4 linked regions of the Homo sapiens genome follow. The protein of the gene in region 1 interacts with the protein of each later gene in a pairwise test. Each region holds a gene or a part of one and is shown on either strand. Other genes may lie near its edges. The genes, in order: PRPS1, PHF5A, FAHD1 and DCAF1.

Region 1 (6,855 bases):
CATCAATAGACTTGCTCAATAGAGGGTTGCCATAAACCTTCAAGTTGTAAAAAATGCAGTATCTGCAAAGCACAATAAAGCAAAGTGTGATAAAATGAGGAATACTTGTGGCTGGAGAGAGGATCTATAGTGGTCATAAAATTCTCAAAGGGGTCCATAATCTCTAAAAGGACCCCTTTTAATTTAATCTGAGATTTTAATTTAATTAATTTAATTTTAATTTAATCTGAGATTAGTGAATCTCAGATTCACAATGTCTTTATCATTCCTCTTCTTAAACCCTACAGCTACTGGCATAGTTAATGACATTACTAACTTGCTCTCCCAATCTGGTTTGCCTGCCTCCAATCTCTTCTCTATTCTTCACCCCACACAGAAAAGTTTACCTAAAGCACAGTTATGATCGTGTCATGCTCTTACTCCAGAACAGTCAATGGCTTCCTATTGCCTGCGGAATGAAGTCCCAATATGGTACTTGATATTCCAGCAAAACTAAACTATTTTCTCTTCTTCAAAACCTCTCTCTGCTTCCTCATCTTTTCTTCCTGCCTGGGAGATCCACCTCCTCTCAATCATTGCCTGTCAAAACCCTACTCATCAATCAAGGCCTAGTTCATGTGCTTCTACCTCCAAAAATATTTCCCAGGATACTCCATGCAGAGGTGATATCTTCTACCTCTGGACCTGCAGAGCATTTTGTTTGGGCCTTATGGGAGACTTCTAGTTGCATACCCAAAATTCATTCTCTCTTCTTTCTGGGAACAGGGCCACCTAACAAAACATTTCCTAGTCTTTCTTGCAGTTAGGTGCGAATTGTGACTGAGCTCTTGCCAAAGGGATGTGAGAGAAAGTGGGATGGATAAATTTCATCTCACTTGCTTAAAAGGAAATCCCTTGCCTAGACCTCTTCTCTGAGCTAGAATGTGGATGTGTCCATGACCTAGCATGGAGCAGAATCATCCCACTGGCTTAGACCAGCCAGCCTGTTATGCAAGAGAGAAATAATTTGTCTTACTAAAGCCGCTATATTTTAGAGTCTCCTTGTTACAGCAGCCTCCACATTATCCAAGCACAGGCTTCTCTATGGTAGCGTATTACATTGTCTGTGCTTTGTAATTATTTGTATAAATGTCTTATCAACTTTCTTTGGAAGTTAACTCCTAATCGGTCTTCCTGCTTCCTATCTTGCCTCCTACACTCTGTTCTCAGTAGCTGGGGTGATCTTTTTAAAAGGGAAGTTAGATTATGTCACTCTTTGCTAAAAATTCTTACTCAGTTAAAGCAAAAACCCCTAAAATAACCTATAAGGTTCTGCATGATCAGCACTCTCCCCACAATCCCTTTTTTTTTTTTTTTTTGGAGACAGGGTCTCTCTCTGTCACCCAGGCTGGAGGGCAGTGGCGCGATCTCGGCTTACTGCAATCTCTGCCTCCCAGGCTCAAGTGATCCTCTCATTTCAGCCTCCCCAGAAGCTGGGACTACAGGTGCTTGCCACCATGCCCAGCTAATTTTTGTATTTTTTGTAGAGATAAGGTTTTGCCATGTTGCCCAGGCTGGTCTGCAAATCCTGAGCTCGAGTGATCCGCCCGCCTCGGCCTCCCAAAGTACTGGGATTACAGACATGAGCCATCGTGCCCACCTGAGTCCCCCAATCACTGTTTTGTTTTGTTTTGTTTAGACAGAATCTCACTCTGTCGCCCAGGCTGGAGTGCAGTGGTGCGATCTCCGCTCACTGCTGCAACCTCTGCCTCCCAAGTTCAAGTGATTCTCTTGCCTCAGTGGGACTACAGGTGCCCACCACCACGCCTGGCTAATTTTTGTATTTTTTGTAGAGACGAGGTTTCGCCACGTTGCCCAGGCTGGTCTTGAACTCCTGAGCTCAAGTGATCCGCCCACCTCGGCCACCCTGAGTGCTGGGATTACAGGCGTGAGCTACCGTGCCTGGCCGGCCTCCAATCACTCTTATCTCATTGACCTCACTTTCCTCCTTTTCTCTTATAGATACATTCCACCTCCACCACACAACACTCGTCCCGCATTGGTATTCCTCAAACAAGCGAGATACATCTGCCTTAGGGTATTTGCCCTTTCTGTTCTCTTTGCTTATCGAGATATCAACATGGCTCATTTTTTTGTTTTTTTTTTCCTCCTTCAGGTCTTTGCCCAAATGTTACCTTCCAAGACAGGTCTTCTCTGACCACCCTACTTAAAATTGTACTCCTCTCCTCTACACTCTGGCACATTATCCCACTTTCCTTGCCTGATTTTTTTTTCCACAACACTTATTGCCATTTGACATACTATGCATTTTGCTTATTTACATGTTTATTGTTTGAGAATGTAAACTCCATGACAGCAGGGTATTTTTAATTGTTTACTAATGTATTCTTGTGCCAATACACAGGGCCTAGCACATAAAGAATGTTCACTAAATATTTATTGAATGAACGAATCCCTTGGGGCAAATACTTTGTAGTCCCCTCAACGCCTTGCACACTGCCTTGCATGCAATAGAACACTCAGTAAATATTTGATGAATGGCCTATGATGGAAGACTACTAATATTCTGCCTTGCAGTTTACTTCCTTCTCCAAGTATTCCTATATACATGGGCCTACATTAAATTTCTGAGCTTGTAAAAGTGCAAAAAAGGTCAGAAGGAGAAGTCCTCCATGGACACTGCTGAAAATAGCAGTAAGACAAAGACAGGATGCTGCTTTGAGTATTTTCTGCCTTTGCCACTTAGATAAATCCCTCTCCCACCTCCATCTCAGTTTTATCATATGTAAAACGACTATATGATCTCTGAGGTCCCTTCTATTTTTACATTTGGTAGTTATGAGCACTATGGTCACTTTTGATTCCAGAATTGTATGATTTTTATCTTCTCCTAACCCATGCTTAAAATATGCTTAATGGAAACATGGTGCAAGAATAAAGGCTCACTTAGGTCCAATTAACAAGTATCGCTATAAAAATAATAAAACATGGTGTAAAAGGCCACATTAGCAACATGTAGCTGATGACATTGAGGCTTACATGAGGCAGACAGGACTAAAACCCAGGTTTTTTCAAATCCCTTCAGGGCTCTTTATCTGAAGTCCCATAGAACACTATACTTTCTTTCCTTTCCGAGGGCTATAAAAGTTAGATCTTTATTGTCCAGATAGTTTGGAAAATCCATCTTCCTTCACTTGTTTCAACATACTTGGTTCCAGCACTAGAAACAAAACAACTTTCTCTTGCAGTGTCTCTTGGATGATTCAGGTGGCATGCCTTCAGTCACTTCCCCCATGTAAACTGTCTTGCAGGCAAAGGCGACACTGCAATTACAATGGGCAAGCAAACTCCTTGCATGCACGTCTGTGATGTAAAAGTGTTTTAATTCAGCCCCATCCTTATAAAGAGATAAAAAATGTGTTCAGAAACATGCAAACTCGTGGCTGTCATCCTGATAAACAGATTTTCTTAAAGGAAACTGTAAACCAGAGCCAGACTTACTTTCCTGCGCTGAGGGAGGGGAAATAAAAAAGCAGGCATGGTTGATTTCCCGCTAGCGGGAACGATCTGGCCTCAGACGTCACCAGCATCCCTCCACCCCCAGTCCAACGTCTCCTGTCCCCAACAGCCTAGCTACAGGGGGCCGGGCTATGGGTTAGTCTCGCCCCCGTTCATGCTCTTCACCCAATACCTGAGAGAATCGGAAGGAGGCAGAGCTACACCGAGGACCAAACCCCGCCCTTCGCTCCCTCTTAGCTAATCGTTGCCAGCGGGGTGTGGACTTCGCCGCTGACCCCACCTCCGCCGCTTTGGGTAATTTAGAGCCGCGCGCCGGGCGGGAATGTAAGATGGCGGAGTAGCAACGCAAAGCGCTTGGTATTGAGTCTGTGGCCGACTTCGGTTCCGGTCTCTGCAGCAGCCGTGATCGCTTAGTGGAGTGCTTAGGGTAGTTGGCCAGGATGCCGAATATCAAAATCTTCAGCGGCAGCTCCCACCAGGACTTATCTCAGAAAATTGCTGACCGCCTGGGCCTGGAGCTAGGCAAGGTGGTGACTAAGAAATTCAGCAACCAGGAGACCTGGTAAGGACCAAGTTGGGACCCTGACTAGACCTCACCTGCCCAGGCGGCAGAGTATAGGAGGGATGGGGTCGCCGCTTGAGCTCAAACAGACTGGGGGTTGGGGGGAGAGGGTGCAGCTCTGTGACTAGCCTACCCCACGGGCTGTTTCCGTTATTTTACCTCTCGCGGGAGGGTCACGTTCATTCTTACCGTGCGGTGGGGTGGAGTCAAAAGATGGAGTGTGAGGCGAAGCTTCTGCGTTTGAGGGCAAGGGCTGGGGGACCCAATAGATAGTGGCTGCATAGAGCGACGAGAGGGGACCGACGCTTAGCCAGGGCGGTAGGGACACGTGGCTTGGCTTTGCTGTTGAGCCACCCAGGCTGGACTGGGTTGCTTCAGCTCTTAGACTAGCTTGCATTTAGAGAGCCTACCTGCGTACTGAGCTCTCCTGGTCTTTCTTTTCCTAGAGTCCAATAAGCAGCTTTTTGATTCGAAATGGTGTTGGTCCGTTCGGCTTGGTGTTGAGGGAAACTGACATTATATACTGCAGGCGCCAAAATTATTACGACTTCCCTTAGATCAGCAAGCGTTGGCTTTTCTCATCTTATGAATCATCTACCTGAGTAATTGGAGCCATAAATCTAGTTGATTTGTTAAAGTGATGCGTTGACTCTGCATCCTTGATAGCCAGCATCTCAGCTTGAGCCATCCAAAAAATCTTGGAAATCTCAATTCTGGAATGTTTGACCTTCCCCAGTGCAGCTAGTGGTACAGATAATGCAAAAGCGTATTTTTCAGTAACCGAGTCCATCCTGGACTTGGCTCCTTCTTTAAGCTCTGTGTAGGGAATTTAGGAAACAATTTTATACCTGAATGTTAAAGATAATTGAGGACAGGCAATGTAGTGGAAGACTAGGATTGGACAGTGCATTGCAACTTGCGTTTTTTCCATTGCCTTGCCAGTAAAACTTGCTTCCTCGACTCCGACTTACACCCTCTACCGGCACCATGGGACTGTTTTAGAGATGACTTGGTTACCTGATTATTTCAGTGCCCCTTCCACCTAAGTGTGGGATCTTTAGTTTCTGATAGGTGTAATTTGTATTTTATTGTTACCCTATCGATTAAATCAGAGCCCTGCCCACAATCTTACAGATTTGTTAAGGGGAAAGTTTTCACCTAATAATCAGATAAGAATATTTCGAATATTTTTTCCTAAATGTTTTTGCTTACTTTTTTGCTTTCTTTGGACTGATTTCCAAGTTTAACTCGCCTTATCTCTTTTAGACCCAGCTGATAAAGTAATGTCACCGATAATGGACAGCTTCTTCCCGAATTATTGTGCTACTGATTGTGATGCAAATGATAGTGTAAACATTGCCATCTGTAACCAGGCAATACCTTAGTTAAAAGAGGCTTACAAACTGCTGTCTTTAGATTTTTCCAAACCATTATGGCTCATGGGCCTTAATAAAGAATACAAAACAGGACTAGACTTTGTGATTGGCAATATAGTTAGGGGACAAGAATGTTTTTCATTTAGAGGTTTTCTTTGGCCCCTGTGGATATTTAATCCTTTTCCTATGCGTCTAGGAAAAATGTGAAGGCATGAAAGCTTTATTTTCTCCTTGTGTTAATCCTTCTGCCCTCTGCATAATGCAGCACCCCAGAACCTGAGGCTATATTGGGAGAGGAGAGGGGGAGGACAACTTAGTTTTCTACTGATTGATTTCTATTAAGTCCAACATGGATAATTGCTGACTGGTTAGATTTTCTTGTTTCTGGCTTAATCATTAGCTTCTTGTTTCCTAGATATTCTGAAATCTTCATTGAACATAATCACATTTTTTTTTATGGAGTTCCCCCTATCTTTGTTTTTCCTATACTGAAGAAATGGTAACTGCTCCCTATAACTGCTCCCCCAGGTGACTCTTGGTTGATGCTCTCTTGAGCAGAGTAGCTTTTCTTCTAACATAAGGATCATCCTTGGCTGTCTGGTTATTTAGGAAACACACACACACACACACACACACACACACACACACGGAGGGGGTGGGTGTTAAAAGTGCTGAAATCAGAGAACTTGGATCTGAATCCTTAACCTTTCTTTGCCCCAATAATCTAATCTGTAAAGTAGTACCTACCCATACTGTTGTTATGAGGATTAAATGAGATAGAAGTAAAGTTCTTAGGATCTTGTCCAAAACATAATAAGTACAACAGTAAATGTTGACAAGAAGGGGTGGTGATAATATTGCAGAAAATGTGGAAAATTTAGAACACGGAAGGGAGAAGATATGCCTCTTAATTCTGCCACCTGACATAAATGTCACATTATCATTTCTGACCTCCCAGATATTTGTGTAAGATACACTTTTTCAAGAATGTTTAATACATTTATAGCTCTCTTCACTTAGCAATATATTTTGAACAGTTTCTCCCTTTAATATTTAGTATATATGATTTTCTTTTTTTATTATTAAAGATTTTAATTTATTTTTTAGAGATGAGGTCTCACTATGTTGCCCAGGCTGGAGTCCAATAGCTACTCACAGGCACAATCATAGCACACTGCATCCTCAAACTCGCGGGCTCAAGTGATCTGCCTGCCTCTGCCTCTCAAGTAGTTGAGAATACAGGCATGCACCACTGAGGTGGGCTAGTTCATGTAATTTTAAATAGCTATATAGTCTTACCTTATGGTTATGCCATAATTTTATATAACCAAATTCTTATTGGACATTTCCAGTTTTTGATCTAATGCTTTTATATGAAAATCCATGAACATAAATCTT
Region 2 (6,506 bases), on another chromosome or scaffold:
ATGCTGGCCAGGTTGGACTCAAACTCCTGACCTTGCGATCCACCCATCTGGGCCTCCCGAAGTGCTGGGATTACAGGCGTGAGCCATCACGCCTGGCCTTATGTTGTCCTTTTACAAGTGTTTCTGGGATGTGCCCATGGTGAAGGCAGTAACGCCAGTACCTCATTTCACGCACTTGGATCCTGCCTACCCCCAGTAAGTGGGAGAGATTGGGCCAGATAAGACCACACCATTGGGCCAGGCACAGTGGCTCATGCCTGCAATCCCAGCACTTTGGGAGGTTGAGGCAGGTGGATCACCTGAGGTCAGGAGTTTGAGAGCAGCCTGGCCAACATGGTGAAACCCCGTCTCTACTAAAAATACGTGGTGGCACACATCTGTAATCCCAGCTACTTGGGAGGCTGAGGCAGGAGAATCGCTTGAACCCAGGAGGCAGAGGTTGCAGTCAGCTGAGCCGAGATCACACCATTGCACTCCAATCTGGGCAACAAGAGCGAAATTCCTTCTCAAAAAAAAAAAGTGAGTACACCATTGAATCTTCTGTTGTTTAGGGAGATGAGAAAGGTCCTGAAGTACCAAAAACATAATGATTTGGACCTTTCTCTTGTCCTCAACTCTGATTTGCATTTACCTTCAACTATCAAGTCACATTCTGCTGTCCGAAAATCCAAATCTAGTCTACTAGCTAGATTACACTTCATTAGAGGCAGGACTTTGGTTTGTCTATTTGCCTCTCCTTTTCTTTAGGTCATGATACAGTGCCTGACATGCGGTGCAAGCATGGTACTTGTATTTTGGTGCTGTCCCTGTAAGTCATCCAGAGGTATCCCCTGTAGGGTGTCTAGCACATAGTAGGTGTTTGTTAATTACTTCTGGTCTATAAGCAGTGAAAGCATGATAAGGTAACAGCAGTGAAGAAAAGTAACAAACAGTTCCTAAACTAGATACAGGATATCTGTTTAAGCCATTTAAGACAGCATTTTCTTGAATTTTTGCATGGGTCTAGCTAGAGTTCTTATGTAGCGTAAGCTTGCAACCAGAGAATGCTTAATAAATGTTAATTGCTGTCTGACTCCTCTGAATGTGGTGTGTGAACTGATACCTTTGGATCCTCATGCCTCATTCTGTCCCTGAGACTTATTCTAGATGTCACTTCCCCTACTTCACATTATACACGAATGTTCTGAGGACATTTGAGATGGAATCTAGCTCACATTTTCAGCACTAGTTTCCAAGGAACACAAAGAAGTCCAGTGACATGATCCAGGCTCTCAGCCTTACAGATCATCATGTAGATTAAGTGGCCGAGGCTCTTTCCTATGCAGAAACCTTCCTACAACCAAGGTACCCCTTGTTATTATTGTCTTCCTGCAACTTTCATAATTGATAAGGGAATTAGACAGGTAAGCTAAGCTAGGTATTCTCATTTATAATTTTTCAAAGCCACAAGAATAACCAGGAGACAGGGATGATGTCTATGGACATTGCTACCAGAGGACTGATTTGTAGGTTCTTATGGTGCCACATCATGTAATCCCCTTAATCTTGATTCCTTTATTCCTTTTGTTTACCATTTTCCTCAGTTCGCCCAACCAGAAAATAAGAAAAATAGCACTAACATTTATGAAGCTCTTAATATATGCAAGGTACTTAGCTGAACATTGTTTTCCAAAAGTTCTGTGTGATACAGATGAGGATGCTAAGGCTTAGAGATGTTAAGCAACTTGGTTAGCCCAAGGTCACGTGGCTAATAAGTGACAGACCCAGGACTAGGGCCTAGGTGGTCTGACTCTTTTTTTTTTTGAGACGCAGTTTCTTTCTTGTCACTCAGACTGGAGTGCAATGGCACGATCTCGGCTCATTACAATCTCCGCCTCCCAGGTTCAAGCGATTCTCCTGCCTAAGCTTCCCAAGTAGCTGGGATTACAGGCACATGCCACCATGCCTGGCTTTTTTTTTTTTTTTTTTTTTTTGAGACAGAGTCTTACTGTGTCTCCCAGGATGGAGTGCAGTGGTGTGATCTTGGCTCACTGCAACCTATGCCTCCTGGGTTCAAGCAATTCTTCCGTCTCAGCCCCCTGAGTAGCTGGGATTACAGGCGTGCACCACCACGCCTGGCTAATTTTTTGTTTTTAGTAGAGACAGAGTTTCACCATGTTGGCTAGGCTGATCTTGAACTCCTGACCTTGTGATCCACCCACCTTGGCCTCCCAAAGTTGCTGGGATTACAGTCATGGACCACCGTGTCCAGCCTAATTTTTGTATCTTCAGTAGAAATGGGGTTTCACCATATTGGTCAGCCTGGTCTCAAGCTCCTGGCCTCAGGTGATCTGCCTGCCTCGGCTTTCCAAAGTGCTGGGATTACAGGCGTGAGCCACCACGCCCGTCGTGACTCAGTGTTTCTTAACCTTTTATTTTTTTTTTCTCATCATTGCACCCCTAAGGAGAAAGGTTAAAAGTTAATGTAAATTAATTAAATTTTGGGGCTGGGCAGGAGCCTACCATCTTAAAGCTAAGCTGTAAGTAGGCCAGGGGCAGTGGCTCACGCCTGTAATCCCAGCGCTTTGGGAGGCCCAGGTAGGCGAATCATGAGGTCAGGAGTTCGAGACCAGACTGACCAACATGGTGAAACCCCATCTCTACTAAAAATACGAAAACCAGCTGGGTGCGGTGGTGGGTGCCTGTAATCCCAGCTACTCAGGAGTCTGAGGCAGGAGAATTGCTTGAACCCAGGAGGCAGAGGTTGCAGTGAGCCCAGATAGCGCCACTGCACTCCAGCCTGAGCGACAGATGAGACTTCACCTCAGAAAAAAAAAAAAAAAGCTAACCCGTAAGTAAAGAACAGAGCTGTGCAGATTGGAGGATTGGGTCATACCATTACTTGGTACCTTCCAGGAATATTTGGGTATCTATAAGGATAGTTTGTAAACCTTGACCTGATCCAGTCTTCTTCTTTTGCAGCTGAGGAGTAATATAAGTCCCAAGAGAAGCAACTTGCCCACATTTGCACAAGTCAGTAAGGCACAGTTTAAGCTATCATCATATCATGAGTTTCATAGCCTCTCTAAAGAGTTGAGAGTCCTGTTATTATGTCTAATATCAGGCCTTTGTCCAGGAGAGGCAGCTAGTGCCTCATTTTTACGAGGACATGAAATATAGATTACGTTGCTTACTTGGGTTCACCTAGCAAGCTATTGGTAGGCGGCTTCCTTGGTACACCAGGCTTCAGAGATGGAAGTGCTCAATGTAATGACTCGATACTTCTTTTCTAGGAGATCCTAAAATGTTAGTGTTAGTTGCAGAGATTTTTGTAGTTGTTGATGTCTGCCCCCAAAGAAGGATATTAGTTGAGTTAGAAATGAGATGGCTAAGGACTTGATTAATTCATACTATCACCTAATATCACAGGACTCAAACTCTGACATGGGTGTTTAATAAAATCAACAGACCTGTAAGGGTTTTCCAGTTACAGCTTCCCCGGTTTTTCTCCCATCATCCCTAATCAACTGATGGAGTCATCATTTCTATATAACACAGCTTCCCAGGGGCTTCACTGAAAGCACTCAAGCTCATCAAATGGCCAGGGCAGCCTGTCATGACAAATTAGTGCATGGTCTGTCAACAGCCATCTATCTCTAGCCAGTAGTGCTCTGTACCCCCAAGACCATGTGTCAAATTAAGTGAATTAATGAAGACACATAAAACCCATTAGTCTCCTATGGTATTTAAAATGTAAGGGCCAGGCACGGTGGCTCACGCCTGAAATCCCATCACTTTAGGAGGCCGAGGTGAGTGGATCAGGAGGTCAAGAGATCAAGACCATCCTGGCCAACATGGTGAAACCCCATCTTTACTAAAAATACAAAAATTAGCTGGGCATGGTCGCGGGTGCATGTACTCCCCACTACTCGGGAGGCTGAGGCAGGAGAATTGCTTGAACCCGGAAGGCGGAGGTTGCAGTGAGCCGAGATCATGTCACTGCTCTCCAGCTTGGCAACAGAGCAAGACTCCGTCTCAAAAAAAAATAAAATATAAGGTATGGCCGAGCACTGTGACTCACGCCTGTAATCCTAGCACTTTGGGAGGCTGAGGCAGGCGGGTTGCCTGAGCTCAGGAGTTTGAGACCAGCCTGAGCAGCATGGTGAAACCCTGTCTCTACTAAAATACAAAAGAAATTAGCCGGGCATGGCGGCGTGTACCTGTAGTCCCAGCTACTCGGGTGGCGGAGGTTGCAGTGAGCCGAGATCGCGCCACTGCACTCCAGCCTGGCGACAGAGCGAGATTCCTTCTCAAAAAAAAAAAAAGAGTTTCATAGTCTACCTCAACTGTGTCATAGCAGCAGACATGGCTGAGAATCCAGCATTCTACATGAATTGCAAGTCATTGGATAGAGGGTAGGCAGGCCCTGAGCACATTCTTAGGTGTTTAGTAAATTATTGATGATAGATCAAATAGGATAATTGGTAAGATAAATGGCTAAACCATTAATCCAAAGGTTATAAAATGGTCTTTTTTTCTTTTTTTGAGATGGAGTTTCTCTCTTGTTACCCAGGCTGGAGTGCTGTGGCGTGATCTCAGCTCACTGCTACCTCCGCCTCCTGGGTTCAAACGATTCTCCTGCCTCAGCCTCCTGAGTAGCTGGGACTACAGGCACGCACCACCACGTCTGGCTAATTTTTGTATTTTTAGTAGAGACGGGGTTTTACCATGTTGGCCAGGCTGGTCTCGAACTTCTGACCTCAGGTGATCCACCTGCCTCGGCCTCCCAAAGTGCTGGGATTACAGGCATGAGCCACCGTGCCCGGCCTATAAATGATCTTTCATAAGTGCTAAGAGATAGGGAAGAAACAGTGCTGATCTGGGCCTCCCAATTAAGGAGATAACTGGTGTTTGGACACATTTACAAACCCATTTATTGAGTTCTTCAAATACTAAGATGAGAATTTGAACTCTGTGACCAATTTTTTTTTTTTCAAGAGATGGGGGTCTCGCTATGTTGCCTACAGTGGGGTACAGTAGCTGGCTATTCACAGGCATCATCATAGCCCACTAGTCTCGAACTCCTGGGCTTCAGCAATCCTCCTGCCTCGGCCTTCGAGTAGTAGCTGGGACTAAAGGCACATGCTACCACACTGGGCTTAAATTTTTTATCTTAAGTCACTCTTGGTTCAGGCTCAAAGACTTAACAACTTCTCTGTTCTGTTTTCCAGAGAGATGGCTGCCCAAAGATTGTCAATCTGGGGAGCTCTAAGACAGACCTCTTCTATGAACGCAAAAAATACGGCTTCAAGAAGAGGTGATTGGTGGGTGGCCCCTTCCTCCCCCCAACATCAGTCTGCTGCAGCTGCCAGAAAACATGCCTACTACTACCAGCAGAAAGGGAGCAGAGCCCAGAGCATCACCAGGAGTGCCTGCTAGTGTACTGGCAGCTTGCCACCCCCTCCTCTCCCTTCACCCAGACACGTGGTAGGGATGGAAAAGGATTCTTCACAGAGCACTCTGGCACACCATATCGGAGAAAACTTGATAGATTAGTTAATGGTTTTTCTTGAATTCGAGAAGCAAAGATCTGTTCTCCATATTGGTATGTTCTCCCTCAACCAAGATCTTCTAAAAAGAAATAATATTTTAGTCTTCTGCTTGAGGAACTGACTGTGAAGCGACGCCCAGTGAAAAACATGTTCTTGCAGCAGCTCTGGTGGCAGCTGTCCTTGAGGAACCTTTGGTGTGTGGTGGGAAGCTATCAGAACAAGAAATGTAGGCATTTCCCGTTTTTTTTGGGGGGGGGGTGGGGGGGCAGGGCTCTGCCCTCTTGAAAGGCATTTACTTGTTTAACACTTGTCCAGCTACAGTGGGGTACAGTAGCTGGCTATTCACAGGCATCATCATAGCCCACTAGTCTCATATTATTTTCCTTTTGAGAAATTGGAAACTCTTTCTGTTGCTATTATATTAATAAAGTTGGTGTTTATTTTCTGGTAGTCACCTTCCCCATTTAACTTTAACTCTAGGAATTTATTTTAGTCACCCAGGAATTTGTGATTCAAAACAGAGGTAGTGGGATTGGTTAAGTACTTTGTCCTCTTATTACCACTGGAAGGAATTCAAAACCACCCATACCTTTCATTATAGATAGATCAAAGTCATCTTTAGAAACGTACTATTTTTTCCTTCCTGTCCAACTTTAATTTTGAACTGAAGAGATAGCTTCCAGTTATGGTGGAGGCTGGGCACAGTAGCCCATGCCTGTAATCCCAGCACTTTGGGAGGCTCAGGCAGGCGGATCTTGAGCCCAGGAGTTCAAGACCGGCCTGGGCAACATGGCAAAAACCCATCTCTATGAAAAATATGAAAACTAGTCAGGTATAGTGGCATGCACCTGTAGTTTAGTCCCAGCTACTCAGAAGGCTGAGATGGGAGGATCCCTTGAGCCTTGGAGATTGAGGCTGCAGTGAACAGTGATCCCGCCACTGCACACCAGCCTGGGTGACAGAGCAAGACTGCCT
Region 3 (6,253 bases), on another chromosome or scaffold:
AGATCTGTCTTCATCTGAGTAATGGGGATGGTAGTGATCATACTAAGCTTATGGCTTGGTTGCTGGTTACATAACACGTGGAAATACAGAATAAACTGCTTGGCATGGTGCCTAACAGTACTGTGTTCAATACATGGGGACCGTTACTACTCAATCAGATGTCCTAGGCTTTCTTCAGGGGCCAGCAGATGATGTGAACGCGAACAGGAACCCCTGCCGAAGCCCAAAGGACTCCTCCAGGCATTGACAGCTATGCTGTGCATCTTGCCTGGATGTTTTTTCAGAGGAGGGTGCAGGCAAGAGCAAAAGCAGCAGTCCCAGGCTATTCAACTTCCACAAAGCCTCCTTATCTCCGGTTGGGAAGTACAGTTGCTGATTAACTGTGTTAACACAGCACAGTGCTCAGAAGGCCAAAGGTCAAAGACTAAGGTCTGAAGCCCCACAAGGAGGAAATATCCCTCCTCGTCATTACTGGGGGGAAAAAAATTACCCTTGTAAGCCACTTAGAAGGGAGCACCTTTATTTGGAAAACAGTAATTTCAAAATCATCTCCCGAACTCAGAATCGATGGGTCTGGGTAGATACCCTAAGTAAACAGGTGAAATCTTCATTACTTGTTCACTTATTAAGTAAAATTTTAAATTAACCGATTATGTACAGGAGTGTTTTTCACATTTCCTGATAAGAATCACTTGGAATGCCCTGTAAACACAGCTTCACTGGAGATTAATCCTATCAAATTGATTCAGCAAGTCCGAGATGGGCCAGTAATTTGTGGAGATTTTTATTTTTACAAATGCTTCCTGATGATGACCAAATCTAAGAAAATTTGGTAAACAACGGAAAGTTATCTGGAACATAACTTTCAGTTTTCTCTGCAGTTTTTAAGTGCTGAACTACTGATCATCCTAGAGATAACCCACTGAAAAGTCTTCTCTAATCCAGTTTTACAAAAGGAAAGTCTTTTTAACATTTGGTTTGATAAAATGTTTTCCGAAGAAATACTTTACTTGCCTGTTTTCATTTCTGGCCCACCCGTTCTACTTCACGTTTTCTTGAAGGGTTCATCTTCTATGAGTTGAGGCATAGCAATCTAATCATTTTTAAAATAAATGGTTTCTTTTTTTTTTTTTTTTTTTGAGACGGAGTCTCGCTGTTGCCCAGGAGTACAGTGGCGCAATCTCAGCTCACTGTAAGCTCCGCCTCCCGGGTTCAATTGATTCTCCTGCCTCAGCCTCCAGAGTAGCTGGGACTACAGGCGCCCGCCACCACGCCCGGCTAATTTTTTGTATTTTTAGTAGAGACGGGGTTTCACCCTGTTAGCCAAGATGGTCTGGATCTCCTGACGTCGTGAGCCGCCCGCCTCGGCCTCCCAAAGTGCTGCGATTACAGGCGTGAGCCACCGCGTCCGGCCAATAAATGGTTTCTAATTAAAGGATTGTGACATTTAATAGCCGTTGCTTGCTCTTGTCTTGCTCCCTTCTCTCTCGAAACTTGTTAAGAAATAACTCAATATTCTGGCTTTTCCACTTTAAATGTCATACTGACCAGCCCGTGTATGCCAGCCTCGATCTCATCGTTTTCTTTAACCGGTCCAACTCCCTTTGGCGTCCCAGTCAAGATAATATCTCCTTCTTCCAAGGTTATGATCTTAGAAACATAGCTGATGATGTAGGGGATGGAAAAAATCATGGAGGATGTCTCACCCTCCTGTCTGAGTTCGCCGTTGACCTTGAGCCAGAGCTTCAGCTTGTGAGGGTCAGGGATCTTCTCCTTGGGCACGAACGCGCTGACCGGGCAGGACGCCGTGAAGCTCTTCGCCAGAGTCCAGGGCAGCCCCTTCTTCTTGCACTCGTCCTGCACGTCCCGGGCGGTCATATCCAGGCACAGGGCATAGCCGCCCACGTAGTCCATGGCCGCAGCCTCGGGGACTGCGCGGCAGCGCTTGCCCATCACCACGCCCAGCTCCAGCTCGTGGTGCAGGTTGCGAGTGTACGCGGGCATGAGGATGGGCGAGCCCTCGGGCGCGTAGGCCGTGGACGGCTTCAGGAACAGCACGGGCTCGCTCAACACCGCGCTGCGCATCTCCCTGACGTGGTCCGCGTAGTTCCTCCCCACGCAGACGATGTTCTTTCCCCACTCCCAGAAGCGGGACAATGGCCTGGATGCTGCCATGATTCCCATCAAGTGCCCCTGTAGTCACGTGGGCTGGGCCGGTCAGCTGATGCCTACGGCATCCCGGAGAGGACCAACTGCCTCGGAACGCTGTCCCCCGCAGCGACGGCCCGTTCCACCTCGCGATCTGCCGGGTACCCGGGCGGCGTGGCGCTCGGCCTCCAGGGATCCACTGTGCGGTGCCAAAAAAGAGGCGGAGGCTCGCGGCACAGCTCTCCCGGCGCAGCTCTCGGGCCGCCGCCGCCGCTCCCAGGCCCGTCTCCCGGCCCGTGGCAGTCGGGGCTCGCGGACAAAACAAGTTGAGCGCGAGCGCGTTGATTGGTTGGCGGACGGTGCGAGGTGGACGCTGATTGGCTGAGGGCAGCGCGAGGCGGGCGCTGATTGGCTGCGACGCGCCGACGCCGGTGTTTTGCAGTCCTGGGCAGCTCGGCAGTCCAGCCCGGCCCGGGTCATGGTGGTGGGCCGAGGGCTGCTCGGCCGCCGCAGCCTCGCCGCGCTGGGAGCCGCCTGCGCCCGCCGAGGCCTCGGTGGGTGCGGCGGGGCGGTGCGGGCCGGGGGACGCGGGCCTGGCGGGGCGGGCAGCGGGCGGCGCCGGGCCGTCGTTTGGCGACCGCTGACGCGGTGTCTGTTGCGCAGGTGCCTAAGGCCGCGCTGCCGGGCTCGAGCGGAGGCGGCGCAGGCGCTGAGGCTGGCGCGGAGCGGGCGCGGGGCCGCGGGTGCGGAAAGCGCTAGGTAAGCAGGGCCAGGCCTGCGTCCGCCGCGGCCTCCACGCTCGGGCTGGGCCGGCCGCGCCCCTGACGCCTCCAGGGCATCGCGTCCTGCCCGGGCCGGCGCCGAGGAGAGCCTGGGGCGCGGCTCTGAGGCGCAGCGGGCAGGGCCCCGGGACGCCTGGCCCACCCCGCACCTGCTGCCCCGCTGCAAGGACCGCGGTCTCGCGGCGCCGCCTGCGGTGGTGGAGCTGCCCGCCCGGCGCCGGAGCCCCCGTCTGGGGACCCGGCGTGTCATTCGCCCGAGGTGGTCGCGCGGCCGGGCCAGGCCAGCGCCCCGGGCGGGTGCGCAGCGCAGGGCACTGGGCGGGCGGAGGCGCAGACAGGGAGGCGTCCCTGGCGGTTTCCAGATCTCGCCGAAAGCTGTCAAGGCTCTGCAGGGGGTAGAATGTCGCCATTGCTAAGGAAAGGACATGGATTTTGAGGTCCTCAGAATTACAGTTTTAGGGACATTCATAAGGGTCCAGGCAGAGAGTTCCAGCGGGACTGTGTGCATCGGCAGGGCGTGCGTACCCCATTCTAAGGGAGGCCCCAGCCCCCGTATTTGGTGCCGCCCAGTTCAAGGGAAGCAAGATGCTGTGAAACTTCCTGATTTAAAAAAGAAGTGCAGTGACGCACGCCTGTCATCCCAGCACTTTGGGAGGCCGAGGCGGGAGGATCGCTTGAGTCCAGGAGTTCCAGACCAGCCTGGCAACATGTTGAGACCTCATCGCTACAAAAACTAAACAAAATCAGCCGGGCGTGGTGGCACACAACTGTAGTCTCAGTCACTTTGGAGGCTGAGGTGGGAGGATCGCTTGAGTCCAGGAGGTCGAGGCTGCAGTGACCCTTGATCGCACCACTGCACTGTAGCCTAGGGGACAGAGTGAGACCATATCTCAATTTTTTTTTGTTTTTGGGGCCAAACCGAACATGTTTCTGGACTTGGTCCAGGCCCCAGGCTGCAGGTCCTTGACCTGTTTGTACAAAGTATTACAGTTACAAAACAGCAAGCCGGGAACATTTGCCAGGCAGTGCTGGGCTGAGTGATATGGAAAGGGAATACGGTTTCTGCTGGTGTTGGCACCAGCTGCGTCTTTCCTCAGAAATAAAGGCACCTCCCTGGGTTGTCAGCTTCTTCAGGAGGCTGTGATGGTCTCCAGGGGAGGCTGAGCACCAGTTGTAAATGACATTTTCTTCGCCTGGGCAGTGCAGTGGCCAATCTCGGCTCACTGCAACCTCTGCCTCCCGGGCTCAAGCGAGTCTCCTGCCTCAGCCTCCTGAGTAGCTGGGACTACAGGCGCTCGCCACCACGCCCAGCTAATTTTTGTATTTTTTAGTAGAGACAGGGTTTCACCATATTGGTCAGGCTGGTCTCGAACTCCTGACCCCGCGATCCGCCCGCCTCGGCCTCCCAAAGTGCTGGGATGACAGGCGTGAGCCACCGCACGTGGGCAGTATTTTTGTTTGTAATGTTCTGCTCCTTGTTTGTAATGGAGCTCCTTTCCAGGAGGACGCCCGGCACTCGGAATCCTGTCACAACCCTTCTGCACCCCACCTGCAGCCCCCAGCACCCACACTCTGCTTGTTGTGCTCCTTGGGCTGGGGTGGTGCTGAGGCTAAGGGGAAGGGGAATAACACAGGAAGCTGCTCATATAGAAATCTTGGTATTATTGTTCCTGAGGAGAATGATCTGGAAAATGCCCAGCTGGTTGTCAGGCGGGTAATAGGATATCTTTGTGCAGTGATTGAAACTATAGTTTGGGCAGTTTCCCCGGCTGTGGAAATAAGGTCGGATTCCGCATTTCGGTGGGCCCTGGAGACGCGTGTGTCTGTCAGTTGGTGGCTGCTGCCCATTTCTGGATCCCTTTTGGGAGAAGCCCCTGCCGTGGCACCTACCCCAGGACTGCACTGTCCTCTGCCACCTTCTGTGGTTTCTTCCCCGTGTAGAGCGGAACTGAAGGTATTGTCGGGGCCCCCAGGTATTTTTAGATTTAGTAGGAGTTTCATTGCTGAAAATATTTTTGCATTGGTCGACTGGGTGGCAGACACTTTTGTCCCTTGGTCACCCACTCCTCCCAGCTCTTGGGCCTTCTGGGCCCCTGTGGCAGAGTCCTTTGGGTCAGTTGGATGGTGGTTTTGTGTCCTCCACACTTGAATCTGGGGGCAGTTGTGGCCAACTTTCCGTCTCAAAGGAACTGCTGATTTTTGTGCATATCTCAGATTCGTGCTGTTCAAGAGCAAGTATTGTTTGTTTGTTTTTTTTTTTTTTTGAGACTGTCTCACTCTGTTGCCCAGGCTGGAGTGCAGTAGGGCGATCTTGGCTCACTGAAACTTTCACCTCCCGGATTCAAGCAATTCTCCTGCCTCAGCCTGCCGTCAAGTATTGGTTCTTTCTGGCTAGAGGCTGAGAAGGGCTGTAACTGCATGGAACGCAGGCTCGCTTAGTCAGTGGTGGCAGCACAGCTTGCTGGAGGGCAGATGGCCAGGCGGGGGCACCCCTAGTCTGTGTTCCCTTCTTCACATTCTGTCCCTGAGTCCGGGGTGTGAATAATCCAGCACTGGCAGTGGTTCGCCTCACAATCACAAGCTGGCCTTCCTGTCCTTTTAGAGTTCTCAAAAAAGAAAATAGAGATCGTAAGTCTGAAACAATTGATTTCCATGAATGTGAGCATGAGTTAGTTCCTGTGTTCTCCTCAGGGATATATGAAGATATTCCTTTTTTTTTTTTTTTTTTTTTTTTTTTTTAAGGAACAGGTTATTGTCTTGTCACCCAGGCTGGAGTGCAGTGGCACAGTCATAGCTCACTGCAGCCTCAAACTCCTGGGCTCAAGTGATCCTCCTGCCTCAGCCTCCGGAGTAGCTGGGACCACAGGCATGCACCACCATGCCTGGCTAATTTTTAAATTTGCAAAGACAAGGTCTTGGCTGGTCGCGGTGGCTCACACCTGTCATCCCAGCACTTTGGGAGGCCGAGGTGGGCGGATCACAAGGTCAGGAGATCGAGACCATCCTGGCTAACACCATGAAACCCGTCTCTACTAAAAAATACAAAAAATTAGCCGGGTATGGTGGCGGGCGTCTGTAGTCCCAGCTACTCAGGAGGCTGAGACAGGAGAACGGCGTGAACCTGGGAGGCGGAGCTTGCAGTGAGCCGAGATCGCGCCACTGCACTCCAGCCTGGGCGACAGAGCGAGACTCCGTCTCAAAAAAAAAAGAAAAAAAAAAAGACAAGGTCTTGCTATGTTGCCCAGGCTGGTCTCAAACTCCTGCCCTCAAGCAGTCCTCCCATCTCAGTCTCTTAAAGCGCTGGGATTCCCGGCAAGAACCAC
Region 4 (7,030 bases), on another chromosome or scaffold:
GAAGTCGGACCATGGTGCCTACAGCCAAAGCCCAGCCATAAAAAAACAGCTGGACAGACATCTTCCTTCCCCACCTACGCTGGACAGTATAATCACAGAGTATCTTAGAGAACAACATGCTCGCTGCAAGAATCCAGTTGCCACCTGCCCACCTTTCTCCCTCTTTACTCCTCACCAATGTCCTGAGCCAAAACAGAGGCGGCAAGCGCCAATAAACTTTACGTCAAGGCTAAACCGCAGGGCATCATTTCCAAAGTATGGAGGGGTGGATGGCGGATGCTTTGATAGGCACCTTATCTTTAGCAGGTAAGAAGAGGCCCCTTCTTACTCCCTGGGAATTGGAATGATTCTTTTATTTAAATCAAACTGGGCAGTATCAGCATAGTTGTCCTGAAATACCACTGATTGTTACTTTGTGTAATACTTGAACAATGTAATTGTACCACCTTTTGTCAACCATGGGTTCCTTGTGTGATTGTTGGCAGTATATTGATATAATCGTTTGTGTTCTCATCTCAACTAGTATGTTTTCTAGAACCCACACCCCCTCATTACTACTGTCCATAAGGAGGCTCCCAAACTTGTGCTGGTGCAAGTTGCTTCCTGTTCTGATTCTTGACAAATCTTACATAAAGGTTACGGGATCACAGGTTTTAAACATGGGAATTTTTTTTTTTTTTGGAGACGGAGTCTCTCTATCGCCCAGGCTGGAGTACAGTGGTGCTATCTTGGCTCACTGCAACCTCTGCCTCCTAGGTTCGAGTGATTCTCCTGCCTCAGCCTCCTGAGTAGCTGGGATTACAGGCAGGCACCACCATATCTAGCTAATTTTTGCATTTTTAGTAGAGATGGGGTTTTACCATGTTGGCCAGGCTGGTCTTGAATTCCTGACCTCAATTGATACCCCCCCTTCGGCCTCCCAAAGTGCTAGGATTATAGGCATGAGCCACTGTGTCTGGCCTAAACATGGGAATTTTTGTTATTTAAATTTGTAAGTGGAAATCTTTTTCTTATTTAAAATAAAAAGCACTGAAGGTCACTGTGATTTTGGAAGAAGCCATTTGAAACATTAATGTTCTGTGCTTTTTCTTCTATCCTAGCAGTTTGCTTTTTCTGAGTCCCTGCACATTCTTTGCCTGTGATTCTCTCTTTTTTTTGCTTAGATTCCGTCCTATTTCAGTGTTCCGGGAAGCCAATGAAGATGAGAGTGGCTTCACCTGCTGTGCATTCTCAGCACGGGAGCGGTTCCTGATGCTTGGCACCTGCACAGGGCAGCTGAAGCTCTATAATGTGTTTAGTGGACAGGAGGAGGCCAGCTATAACTGTCACAACTCAGCCATCACACATCTTGAACCTTCCAGGGTAAGGGTTCCTTCCTAGGATGCTCTCAGTCATTCTTCCAAGATGAATTGGTGAACTAGAGTAAAGGAGGCTTACCCTTTATTGAGCTCTCTCTTTTAAATGAGTCCTCAACTGGAAAGTCTAGTTGAGGTTAATTCATATTTCAGATGGAGACTGAGGAATATGGCAAAGTTAGTAGGAAGAAAGGAACCATCTTTGACATCTTCTCATTTTCCCCCCTCCCTTTTATCTATTCTATTTTTGTGGCTAGTTCAGTAGGATTTAATATTCTCTTAAGTTTGGTTATTTTATAGGACACTATAGGTGTATGTATTCAAATCCTAGTGGCTTCTGACCATTTCTTGGTTTCTGGGGATTATAAAATTGTCTCTTTAATTCAACAACATTTTTATGCAAATCTTTAAAAATGCTAATGGCAGGTAGTGACATCTGCATGTATGTAAATACGTGGTTACCCACCTTGCGCCTTTTTCTTTTAGGATGGGTCCTTGCTGCTGACATCTGCTACTTGGAGCCAGCCTTTGTCTGCACTTTGGGGAATGAAGTCAGTATTTGATATGAAGTATGTATCTGCTTTTGGAACCTAGTCTGTGCTTTATTTACCTAGTTTATACCCCCCTTCATTTGGTTCTTAGACTGGAAGCCTTTTGGGGAAAGAGGATGCTGTCGGTTATTGTTAACTTCTCTCTTCCTCATCTAAGACTCATGTTTAATAAGACTTTATCTTTCTTAATTCCTAGATACTTTTATGAGGTATATACATTCTCATTATGCAGCAGACCCCGACCCAGAATCTATGTATTTTCCCATGTTCACATAGGACATTGCAGTCTTTGCTGTGTCTCCTCTCCTCTCCTCTCCCCTCCCCTCCCCCCTCACCTCCCCTCCTTTTCTCTCTCCTCTCTTCTCCTCTCCTTTCCTTTCCTTTCCTTTTTTTTTTCTTTTTTTTATTTTTTGTGAGACAGAGTCTCGTTCTGTCGCCCAGGCTGGAGTGCAGTGGCGCGATCTCAGCCTACTGCAAGCTCCGCCTCCCGGGTTCACACCGTTCTCCTGCCTTAGCCTCCCGAGCAGCTGGGACTAGAGGCGCCCGCCACCACACCTGGCTAATATTTTATATTTTTAGTAGAGACAGCGTTTCACTGTGTTAGCCAGGATGGTGTTGATCTCCTGACCTTGTGATCCGCTGGCCTTGGCCTCCCAAAGTGCTGGGATTACAGGCCTGAGCCACCGCACCTGGCCTTTTCTTTTCTTTCCTTCTTTAGACGGGGTCTCATTCTGTCACTTAGGTTGGAGTGCGGTGGCACAAACATGACCTACTGCAACCTCCACCTCCCAGGCTCAAGTGATCCTCTCATCTCAGCCTGCTGAGTAGCTGGGACCACAGGCATATGCCACCACGCCTGGCTAATTTTTTGCATTTTTGATAGAGATAGGGTTTCGACATGTTGCCCAGGGTGGTCTCGAACTCCTGAGCTTAGACAATCCACCTGCCTCAGCCTCTCAAAGTGCTGGGATTGTAGGAGTGAGCTACCATGCCTGGCCCCTTTGCTGCGTGTTTCAAAGGCACATGTGCCCTGTTTGTCATTTCTCTAAGGAATTCCCATTCATTATTTTGTATCTGCTTGGTTAAGGTGATAGAAGGAATTTTCTTTGTAATCTAAGTGTATGATTGTTTCCTCTTTGGGAGTCCAGGATCTTTAGGTGAGTGTGATTGTGCAAGAGGCTGGGGGTCACCTGTGTTTCAGTTGGTTGCAGGAATATGTCCTGAAGATCTGTCACTTCAGTGCTCCTGTTGTTTGTCCATAGGCATTCCTTCACAGAAGATCACTATGTTGAGTTCAGTAAGCACTCCCAGGATCGGGTCATCGGCACAAAAGGAGACATTGCCCACGTAAGTACTTAAGAACCACTGTTTTCAAGCTGATCATACCCATTTGTTCATACTGAAATCTTCTTGATAGAATGTGAGGACCTAAGTCCTTTGGGCAACTAGAAATCAGTGATATTCCTTCTAGTTAGAATCTAAAAGTATGATAATATAGTTCTGAGCTGTATGGGAAAAATGTATAAGGGCTAAATGTGACATTGAGAAAGATGTCATTAGCACCACAGATATTTTTGAATTCTTAGTAAGTTTTAGATTAGAAATGAAACCCCTGCCTTTATGGACCCTCATTGGGGAGACAATAAAGAAGCAAATATACGGTAAATTTAGGTGGTAAGTGTTTCAGAGAAAATGAAAGCAGGGTAAGAGGTAGGAAATGCTTGGTGGTGGTGTGGGGGACTTCTCTTTTATCTAGGGTAGACAGCATCACTGATGGGGTAATGTTTAAGCAGAGCCTTGAAGGAAACGCGAGATTCAGGAAGATACCTGGAGGAACAGCGTAAGGCACAGGAAATGGCAAGGGAAAAGCCCTTGCTTGGGAGGTGGGAGGAGAGCTGAGGTCAGTGAGGGGCCTGTATCTGGTAGCATCTTGTAGGTGGTAGTTAGGGCCTTTAGCTTTTTTTTTGAGTGAGATGAAGACACTGGTGGGTGAGTAGAGGATACATGAGTGGATGTAAAGTTCCTGAAGTGTGACTCTGGTTTTTGTGAGAGAAGCAAGAGCAGCCTTCCAGGTCAGAGGGTGTTGTACCACCTGACACATGAGAGGAGCTGTGGGTTTGGGCCTGGGTAGGCATGGTAGAGGCTATGAGAAATGGAGGACCTTGGCCCTGGGATTTTGGACACATGAAATTTGAGATTCTCTTAGACATTCAAGTAGAGAATGGGGATTGAATACAAAAGTTGGGAGCTGGCCAGACTTAGTGGCTTCTGCCTGTAATCCCAGCACTTTGGGAGGCTGAGGTGGGAGGCCAGGAGTTCGAGACCAGCCTGGGCAACATAGAGAGACTCCCCCCATCTCTACAAAAAATAAACAAAATTGGCTGAGCTTGGTGGGCTTGGGACCTATAGTCCCAGCTACTCAGGAAGCTGAGACGGGAGGGTTGCTTGAGCCCATGAGTTGGAGGCTGCTGTGAGCTATGATTATGTCACTGTACTCCAGCCTGAGTAACCAAGTGAGACCCTGTCTCTGAAAATAAAAACAACAAAAAATTGGGAGTTCAAGAGAGAGGTGTGGGTTGGGAAATATAAATATGGGACTTGTCCACATATTGACAGTATTTATTTATTTATTTATTTTTGAGACAGGGTCTTGTTCTGTCACCCAGGCTGCAGTGCAGTGGCACGATCACAGCTCACCACAGCCTTGACTGCCTGGACTCAAGCAATCCTCTTACCTCAGCCTCCTGAGTAGCTGGGACTACAGGCGAGCACCATCACACCTGGCTAATTTTTTTGTATTTTTGTAGAGACGGCATTTCCCCAACGTTGCCCAGGCTGGTCTCGAACTCCTGGGCTCAAGTGATCCACTTTTCTTGGTGTCCCAAAATGTTGGCATTGCAGGCATGAGTCACTGTCCCCAGCTGATAGTATTTACAGCCATGAACTTATATGAGATCATCAAGGGGACTAGAGAAGAGTTGTGGGTATAGAACCCTGGCATGTGTTTAGGAGTTGCCAAATGAGGAACTTGGGAAGGAAATCAAATATAATGGCCAGTAAGGCAGAATGGAACCCCGAGAAAAAGAGGTGCCTGGCCGGGTGCGGTGGCTCACGCCTGTAATCCCAGCACTTTGGGAGGCAGTATTCTGTGGTAATCATTGATCCATGTGGAGAATTTGTGTGTTAATTTTAGAAACTGCTTTGCACATTTTCTCTTTAATTTGTCAGTGGATGGATTGGTCTGATTTTTCTCTTCCCATCCCTTCTTCTCTAAAGATTTATGATATTCAGACTGGCAACAAGCTGTTGACTCTGTTTAACCCAGATCTTGCCAACAACTACAAGAGGAACTGTGCCACCTTTAATCCTACAGATGATCTTGTCTTAAATGATGGCGTCCTCTGGGATGTCCGCTCTGCACAGGCCATCCACAAGTTTGACAAGTTCAATATGAACATCAGTGGTGTTTTCCATCCAAATGGACTGGAGGTGATCATTAATACTGAGATTGTATCCTTTATACTCATGTCTTACCTTCCATTTGTTGTCTGGTTTGTGGTGCAGAAATAATTTGTTCTATCTTTATACCAATACCTGGTTAAAGTGTCCACACTGGTAATAATATGGTGCCTGTCCTTTGGTTTGAAATGTTAGTGAAATCTCCAAAGCACTGTTGCCAATGTTAGTAATTACTGACAACTTTCACTAGCATGTTTTCTATGTATTTGGTAAGAGTGACCAGTTTCCTACCTCCCAGTTCTCCAAGAATTGAATTAGCTTTTATCTGTCTTCAGAAGGATTTTACTTTTGCTCTGTAAAAAATCAGTTGCCACATAAGAGGAAAATGAAGTACTACTGTTGGGAGGAAAAGAGCTCATAAAGCATTCCTGTATATGAGGATACCCTAGGATATTTTCAGAGACATCATTCAATAATATGCATTCTACATGTATTTGTTTTACCTTGATCTCATTGACTTTTAAAGTATCAATACCTGGCAGGAGGAAAAAAAGTGATATTTTAGAATTTCCTCCCATGAGATTAGATAAGTTTTGTGTAAAATAGTTTTCCTTGACCATTCCCCTCCTAGTGGGACCTTCGAACTTTTCATCTTTTGCATACTGTTCCCGCTCTGGATCAGTGTCGCGTGGTGTTCAATCACACGGGAACAGTGATGTATGGAGGTAATAAACCTTATCCTTCATTATTCTCTTTCCTTTTGCTCTACCCCTTCACTTAATTTGATACTTCTTTTTGGAACCATCTCTCACTTGTGAATTGGAAAGCATTTGAGAGTTGTAACATAAAAGATAAAAAATTGATAGTATGAATGGTGACAAAAGATATGAAAATAATGTTGGTTTAGGGTGAAAGGCAGCTTACTTTGAAGATAACAAGGAAATCTTGTATGGAAAGAAATTTCATGCAGTATTTTCCAGTGTATCATTATGAACTTAAGAGCTTTTGCATTTGTCCTCTTGTGTTGTTATAAGCCTTGTAAGTACAGTAACACTTCTTGGAGGTAGATGAGAGGCTGAGGATATTATTTGTCACAATAGGTGGGATATGCAAGGAAGATGCTCTGAGAGGAGCTAACTAGATGCAGAGTAGATTTCTGTACAAGGGAATTTGTATGTAAACCTATATGCAAGTAGATTGTTTTGATTGGCCATTAACATTTTCTGCACTTGTGAAGAGGGGATGTTTGTGATTCCTAATAGTGTTTCCTCCCCCACTCCCCCTCAAGCTATGTTGCAGGCAGATGATGAAGATGACTTAATGGAAGAGAGGATGAAAAGCCCCTTTGGGTCATCCTTCCGAACATTTAATGCAACTGACTACAAACCTATAGGTAAGCAGAAAGGGACAGACATTGAACATTTTGTCGTGTTTTGGTGTTCCTTATTTAAGATCCTTCATTTTCTGGAGGCCTGTAATTTTTTATTGAAAAACAGAGAAGTTATGGAAATACTTTTGAGCAATCATCCTGAATTCCTTTAGAGGAAAAGCAGGTTTTAGGGTCACAGCAATAGTCCAATCCCAATCTTCTCACATTCTATTTTCCAGCAACCATTGATGTGAAACGGAACATCTTTGACCTGTGTACAGACACCAAAGACTGCT

What was found.
Region 2: the proteins of PRPS1 (region 1) and PHF5A interact in binary tests that used the Homo sapiens proteins (3 or more experiments, as listed by UniProt).
Region 3: the proteins of PRPS1 (region 1) and FAHD1 interact in binary tests that used the Homo sapiens proteins (3 or more experiments, as listed by UniProt).
Region 4: the proteins of PRPS1 (region 1) and DCAF1 interact in binary tests that used the Homo sapiens proteins (3 or more experiments, as listed by UniProt).

The regions. Positions count from the first base shown.
Region 1 is NC_000023.11:107,624,670-107,631,524, forward strand, and holds the start of PRPS1 (ribose-phosphate pyrophosphokinase 1), read left to right. Parts: upstream 1-3,840; 5' UTR 3,841-3,959; coding exon 3,960-4,081; intron 4,082-6,855. UniProt on the Homo sapiens protein: Catalyzes the synthesis of phosphoribosylpyrophosphate (PRPP) that is essential for nucleotide synthesis.
Region 2 is NC_000022.11:41,459,192-41,465,697, reverse strand, and holds the end of PHF5A (PHD finger-like domain-containing protein 5A), read left to right. Parts: intron 1-5,210; coding exon 5,211-5,300; 3' UTR 5,301-5,981; downstream 5,982-6,506.
Region 3 is NC_000016.10:1,823,161-1,829,413, reverse strand, and holds FAHD1 (oxaloacetate tautomerase FAHD1, mitochondrial), read right to left. Parts: upstream 2,209-6,253; 5' UTR 2,185-2,208; coding exon of another isoform or gene 2,176-2,184; coding exon 1,510-2,175; 3' UTR 504-1,509; downstream 1-503. Other genes in the region: HAGH (hydroxyacylglutathione hydrolase, mitochondrial isoform 1 precursor), read left to right, coding at 2,627-2,702. UniProt on the Homo sapiens protein: Tautomerase that converts enol-oxaloacetate, a strong inhibitor of succinate dehydrogenase, to the physiological keto form of oxaloacetate. It is thereby required to maximize aerobic respiration efficiency by preventing succinate dehydrogenase inhibition.
Region 4 is NC_000003.12:51,413,010-51,420,039, reverse strand, and holds part of DCAF1 (DDB1- and CUL4-associated factor 1), read left to right. Parts: coding exon 1-306; intron 307-1,163; coding exon 1,164-1,362; intron 1,363-1,841; coding exon 1,842-1,924; intron 1,925-3,168; coding exon 3,169-3,253; intron 3,254-5,182; coding exon 5,183-5,416; intron 5,417-5,996; coding exon 5,997-6,090; intron 6,091-6,653; coding exon 6,654-6,758; intron 6,759-6,973; coding exon 6,974-7,030. UniProt on the Homo sapiens protein: Acts both as a substrate recognition component of E3 ubiquitin-protein ligase complexes and as an atypical serine/threonine-protein kinase, playing key roles in various processes such as cell cycle, telomerase regulation and histone modification.